2 separate regions of the Homo sapiens genome follow, and region 2 is linked to region 1. Evidence: fine-mapped expression QTL. A gene starts in region 1. The other region holds a variant in brackets. All regions are shown on one strand. Distances are from middle to middle.

Region 1 (2,799 bases):
CAGAGACCCCTGATGGACACACCCATACGGGTATGTCCACGGGCACCAGGCACACACGTGTGCATCAGGCACTTGCCCTGCACCTCTGCACCCGGAGCACGTCATCCTGGTGGGGGTGTGGACAGCGGTGCTGGGCACCCTGGGGCTTGGGGGCAGCGCACGCCCCAGGGAAAGTGCAGTGACAGAGCCCCCGGCCTCCCCAATACTGTCCGGGCTCCCCTGGCCTCTCCCCCTTCTTGGTGCCTCTGCCTCTCCCTCTGCTTGTCTGCAGGTTTGTCCCACGATGCCCCACACTCAGTGGAGATGGCAGGTGGGCCCAGACCTCAGAGTGGGTTTCAAGGCTCATGGGCTGGAGAGTGGGGGTTCCAAGTTTGCAGGACAGGAGCGCACCCCTACTCTGGAAACCTTATCTCTGAGGTCTCAGAATGGGGGATGAGGAGGGCTCCAATGGGCCCCTGTGGAATGTCCTATCAGACCCCAGGACTTAGCCCCAGTCGGGGGACAGAACTGTGGCCTTAGAGGGGCGCCAGGAGGAGGGCAAGCAGGATGTGGCCTTGGGCTGGGTGTGCTGGTGTGGGGCTCTCTGGAGTGTGGCCTCTGTGCCAGACGCCTGTGCCTTGGCCGTCCTACAGCCCTGCTGCCCCTGCCCTCTCCCCAAGCTGGGGACTGGTGGCAGACAGGGCAGGGCAGGCGGCTTCTCTTCCTCTAAGTGCAGGCCTCGAGGTGCCGACAGGGGTGCGGTAGGATTCAGGGAAAGTGAGGTTGGGATCACAGGTGCAGTTAGGGCTCAGGGCCCGACAGCGGTAGGCCAGCGGCTCCTGGGGCCCAGGAGGATGGTCTCCAGCGCCCCCAGCGGGGACAGGGCCAGCACAGGCCCAGTGGAGATCGAGGGGAGATAAGGACGCTGGTTAACATGGCTGACAGGAGGGATGGTGGGTGGGGAGGAAGGGCAGCACCGCCCTTGTGCTGTGGGAGCTCCCAGGGAGCTCCATGCAGCATGGAGGTGAAGGGCCTGCAGAGAGAGGGCTCCCCTGCTCAGTGACAGGAGAGGGGGCTGACAGTGACCTGGGCTCCCTTCCTGAGGCTGGCCAGTCAGCTAGAGGGCTGACCCCAAAGCCCGAGGCCAGCGCAGCCCCCTTGGCCCTCCTGAATCTGGGGGGCGGGTGAGGCGGGACAGACTCCGCCTGGCACCGGGACCATCCTCCGCCTCAACTTTGCAGCGTACTTGGACCGCTCTGGCCGCCCTGGGCGCTACCCGCAGAGATAAGGGCCCCTCCCTGCGCCCGGTCCGGGCATCTCCGAGCCGGCCTGGGGGTGGCTGAACTCTCTTTTGCCGGCCGAAACCCCAGCCCCCGCAGCCCCCGCAGCCGATCGGTCCTCAAGCTACAGCTCCCCTCTCTGGGAGTCCCCGCTTTTGAATTCCCCGGGGATGTTCCCGCTGCGGTCCGATGGACCTCCCAGAGCAGCGGAGGTCAGGGGAGCTAGCAGAGGCGGGGACGTCCCTTGGGAGTGAGGGGACTGACAGGGGCGGCCTCGTAACCCTGCGTGGGATGGAAGGTCAGAGTGGGTTCCTCGGTGGGGGGCAACAGCGGGGGCTCTCCGGCAATTGTCCCCGACCCTCCGTCCTGGGGAGGGCAGGATCAGCGCGCGGGCTGCTTTGCATCTCTTTGCATTTTAGTGATGTTTGGTCCAGTCCTGGCCCGGGCAGATCTGGGGTTCGGGCGGGTGCCGGTGGGGTAGGGCTGGGGGTGGGAGCGGCGTTTCCTGCTGCGGGTGAGCCTTTTGCCTCGGAACTGGACCCGGGAGACATCACAGCGCTGGGCTAGGGGCGCGGCTTGAACTCGCCTAAAGAGCTGCGCCCTCTCAGTAAGTCCCCATGGCCCCCTGCCCCCCCGCGCTCCGTCCTCAGTCAGGCCCGGGTCCTGCCTGAAGGCGGGGGTGGACCAGATGATCTTTCTTGGGCCCTGGGCCTAGATTCGAGGTCCCCAGGGTCCAAGTCCTGGGTTCAGAGGGCGGGGCGCGAGGGGCGGGGTCTCCAAGGGGCGGGGTCCCGGGGTCCCTGAAAGGCGCGGACCAGGCCGGATCCACCCAGTCTCGCGCCTGCAGCCCGTGCCGCCCCAGCCGCTGCCGCCTGCACCGGACCCGGAGCCGTCATGCCCAAGTGTCCCAAGTGCAACAAGGAGGTGTACTTCGGTGAGCGCGCCCACACCGGCCCCGCGAGGAGGCGCCGCCGACGGGGCGACGAGGCTGGGGACCGCTCAGGAGGACCGGGGGCGCTGGGTCCCTGGGGCGGCGCCCCAGCCTGAAAACGCCTCAGCCTGGCCCGCCGCCTGCCCCGGGATGAGGGTGGAGGCCCCTGCGTCCGAGGGCCCTGGCGATCTCTGCCTGCTAGTGGTCTTGCTGTGCTCGGCGGGCTACCTCTGGCTCTGAGCCTCCCCGTCTCTGGGTCCTACGGTCTCTGCCGTTTCCTCTCAGGCGCGCCCTGAGTGGGGGACCCGCAGGGCTGGAAGGAACGCGGGGCTGGGGCCGCGCCCCCCAGCGCTAAGTGGAAACAGACGCGGAAACCGACGCCCGGGGCGCGATCCCGGGCGCCCGCCTCCCTGCCCCGCGCCCGCGCGCCCCGAGGGGAGGGAGGAAGTGGGAAGTCACCCCTGTCCCCGCCGAGAAGGGCTGTCGCAGGCTCCACCCTTGCCACCGCAGAGGCCCGGGGCTGAAAGCAGGCAGCCAGGCCCAGGCCCTGCTGACCTAAGCCGCGACCCCTGACCCTCGGCCTCGCCCTCTAGCCCCACCCAGCCTTCA
Region 2 (2,958 bases), 70 kb before region 1:
CGCGGTCTCCGGCGCGCAGGTCCGCCCAGGGTTGGCCGCGTGGTCCCCCGGGCTTCCCACGCCCGATTCGAATTGTGACTCCGGCTGGCTCCGGACCGAGCCGAGGACGCTCCGGCACCACAGCAGGAGCCGCGCGGGCGGGGGCGCGGGGCGCGGAACGGGGCGCGGGGCGCCTGGGAGATGTAGTTCGCGGCCTTCCCCGGCGCACCAGACAATGCCCGACGCGGCCCCGCTGGAGAAACGCCTTCCTTGGCTTTGCAGAAACACCGCTTGCTATTAATACAGCAACGAATACAGCTTTAAAAACGCGCCCAGTGTCCTCCCTGGAATAACAGCTGTTAACATTACCTAAAGGTTATCCCAGATATTTCTAAATGTATATGGGGAGATAAAAGGATGTAATGGAAATACAGAAATACGTGTCGAGTTGCTACTTATAGACTTTTAAATATTTAAAGAAAAAAATTGCTAAAAGCAGATGAATGCTTCTTCACCTCAAGTTTAAAAGTCTCCTTACGATGGCCGGGCGCCGTGGCTCAGGCCTGTAATCCCGGCACTTTGGGAAGCCAAGGCAGGCAGATCGCTTGAGCTCAGGAGTTGGAGAACAGCCTGGGCAACAAAGGGAAGCTCCATCCATACTGAAGATACAAAAATCAGCCGGGCGTGGTGGTGCTCTCCTGTAGTCCCAGCTACTTGGGAGGCTGAGGTGGGAGGATCGCTTGAGCTCAGGAAGTCGAGGCTGCAGTGAGCCGAGATAGGCCCACTGCACTTGAGCCTGGGTGACAGAGTGAGACCCTGTCTCCAAAAAAAAAAAAAAAAAAGTCTTCTACGATTATTTTTAGAAATTACAAAAACATCAAGAGATGAGTGTGTTTGGTTTACAGCAGCAAAGCACGGTTCGGCTGAGGCGGCACCGGCTGACTTCTGCCTGTGAATGGTGAGGAACTGGCACTGACATTTCCATATCCCCTGGCAGGGCATTTCTTACCAGAAGATCAAGGCTCACCGCCAGTATTTGACCCACTGAAAGTCTTTGTTTTGATTTACATCTTTACTGGCTGGACTTAAGATCAGTTTTTGTTGTTGTTGTTAGACAGGGTCTTGCTCTGCCACCCACGCCGCAGTGCAGAGGTGCTATCTCGGCTCACTGCGAACTATGCCTCTCAGGCCTAAGCTATCCTCCTGCCTCAGCCTCTCAAGTAGCAGGGACTACAGGCATGCACCACCACGCCCCGCTAATTTTTATATTTTTCAGTAGAGATGGGTTTTCACTATGTTGCCCAGGCTGGTCTCAAACTCCTGGGTTCAAGTGACCTGCCCAAAGTGCTGGAACTTCAGAGCCAGAGCCCTGGTTTTATACACTTTATTATGTTCCCCTCCCTGCTAGATTGCAAACCCTCTGAGGGCAAAGGTGCTGTTTCCTTACCCTCCAAGGCCTAGAGTGGCCTGTAGCTTGAAGTAGATGTTTAACAAATAATCAATGAGTAAATTATTGTGTTAATCACTTTGTCTTGCTCTGAAATTATCTCAAGCCTTTCATCTCCAAGTAACTTGATATTCTGCCCTTTGCTGTTTATGACTTGATCCAGCCACGGTGCGATTTTGGTGCTTCCGGTTTGCTTGGCTCTTAACTCTTCCTCCCATCCTGCTGTTTTGTCGTCAAGCATTTGAATTCCTGATTGTTGAATTCATGCTGCTATGAAGCTCTGAAAGAAGTCCTGTGGAGTCCTCTTCTGTTTCTTTGGTTGCGTTTTCTTATTTATTTATTTATTTATTT[A/ATTT]TTTATTTTTTATTTTTGTTTCTTTGAGACGGAGTCTCACTGTGCCGCCCCCAGGCTGGAGTGCAGTGGTGTGGTCTCGGCTCCTGGGTTCATGCAATTCTCCTGCCTCAGCCTCCGGAGTAGCTGGGACTACAGGCACGCGCTACCACACCCAGTTAATTTTTTTGTATTTTTAGTAGAGATGAGGTTTCACTATGTTGACCAGGCTGGTCTCGAACTCCTGACCTCAGGTGATCCTCCTGCCTTGGCCTCCCAAAGTGCTGGGATTACAGGCGTGAGCCACCACGCTCAGCCCAGTTGTGTTTTCTTCCATACTGGGTTTCTCACCGGCCCCTCACACCCTCGATGACTTGTTTTTCTGTTGTTGAATGACATGGATGTGGTCACGTGCCACCTCTCAGCAATGCTCCCACCTCAGCCTCCGGGGATATGCCACTACTTCTGTAGTGCTTTCTGACGTGAAAGCTCTTTCCTGAATGTCTATTCGCTCTGCTACTAAGTGGATGGAGTGGATGGATTTTTTTTTTTTTTTTTTTTTTGGAGACGGAGTCTCGCTCTGTCGCCCAGGCTGGAGTGCAGTGGCATGATCTCGGCTCACTGCAAGCTCCGCTTCCTGGGTTCACGCCATTCTTCTGCCTCAGCCTCCGGAGTAGCTGGGACTACAGGCGCCCGCCACCACGCCCAGCTAATTTTTTCTATTTTTAGTAGAGACGGGGTTTCACCGTGTTAGCCAGGATGGTCTCGACCTCCTGCTCGTGATCCTCCCGCCTCAGCCTCCCAAAGTGCTGGGATTACAGGCGTGAGCCACCGCACCCAGCTGGATTCTTCTTAATTCTTTGTTTTTATTGTTTGACTCACCTGAGGTCTTTGGACTTTGCCTCTGAGCTGGCTTAAGGGCAATCCACCTTGTTCACTGGTCTGGAGTGGGGAGGCAGAGTATGGGTCGGCTGGAGGAGTGGGGCTCTGTGCTCTCTTTTGAGAGTTTACTAAACGTCACTCTGCATGGTGAGGGGTGTGTCCTCTCCGCTGGGGAGGCCTGGCTTGAATTTCAGATTGCCTCCCTGGGACACCAGACCCTGTGCTGTGCTCCCTCAGAAGGACAGCCTTGACTGTCTCCACTCCAGCAGTCAGTTCTCTCCACTCCCACTGGGAGAAGGAGCAAAGGCTGGTGTCTTCAGGAG

Evidence for each region.
Region 2: its variant is fine-mapped to the expression of CRIP1 in whole blood (INTERVAL, PIP above 0.99).

What each region holds. Positions count from the first base shown.
Region 1 is chr14:105,485,107-105,487,905 of GRCh38, forward strand. CRIP1 (cysteine rich protein 1) reads left to right here and starts at 1,780. Exons shown (of 6, transcript NM_001311.5): 1 at 1,780-1,866; 2 at 2,093-2,193. The coding sequence starts at 2,154. RefSeq lists silencers at 2,000-2,049, 2,060-2,159, 2,210-2,339, 2,510-2,719.
Region 2 is chr14:105,415,101-105,418,058 of GRCh38, forward strand. It overlaps MTA1-DT (MTA1 divergent transcript), which reads right to left. Exons shown (of 2, transcript NR_125385.1): 2 at 2,481-2,958. Among named protein-coding and RNA genes, the nearest start is that of MTA1-DT, 3.2 kb to the right of the region's middle. RefSeq lists a silencer at 1-255 and an enhancer at 2,924-2,958. The variant A/ATTT (reference allele first, on the strand shown) is at 1,778.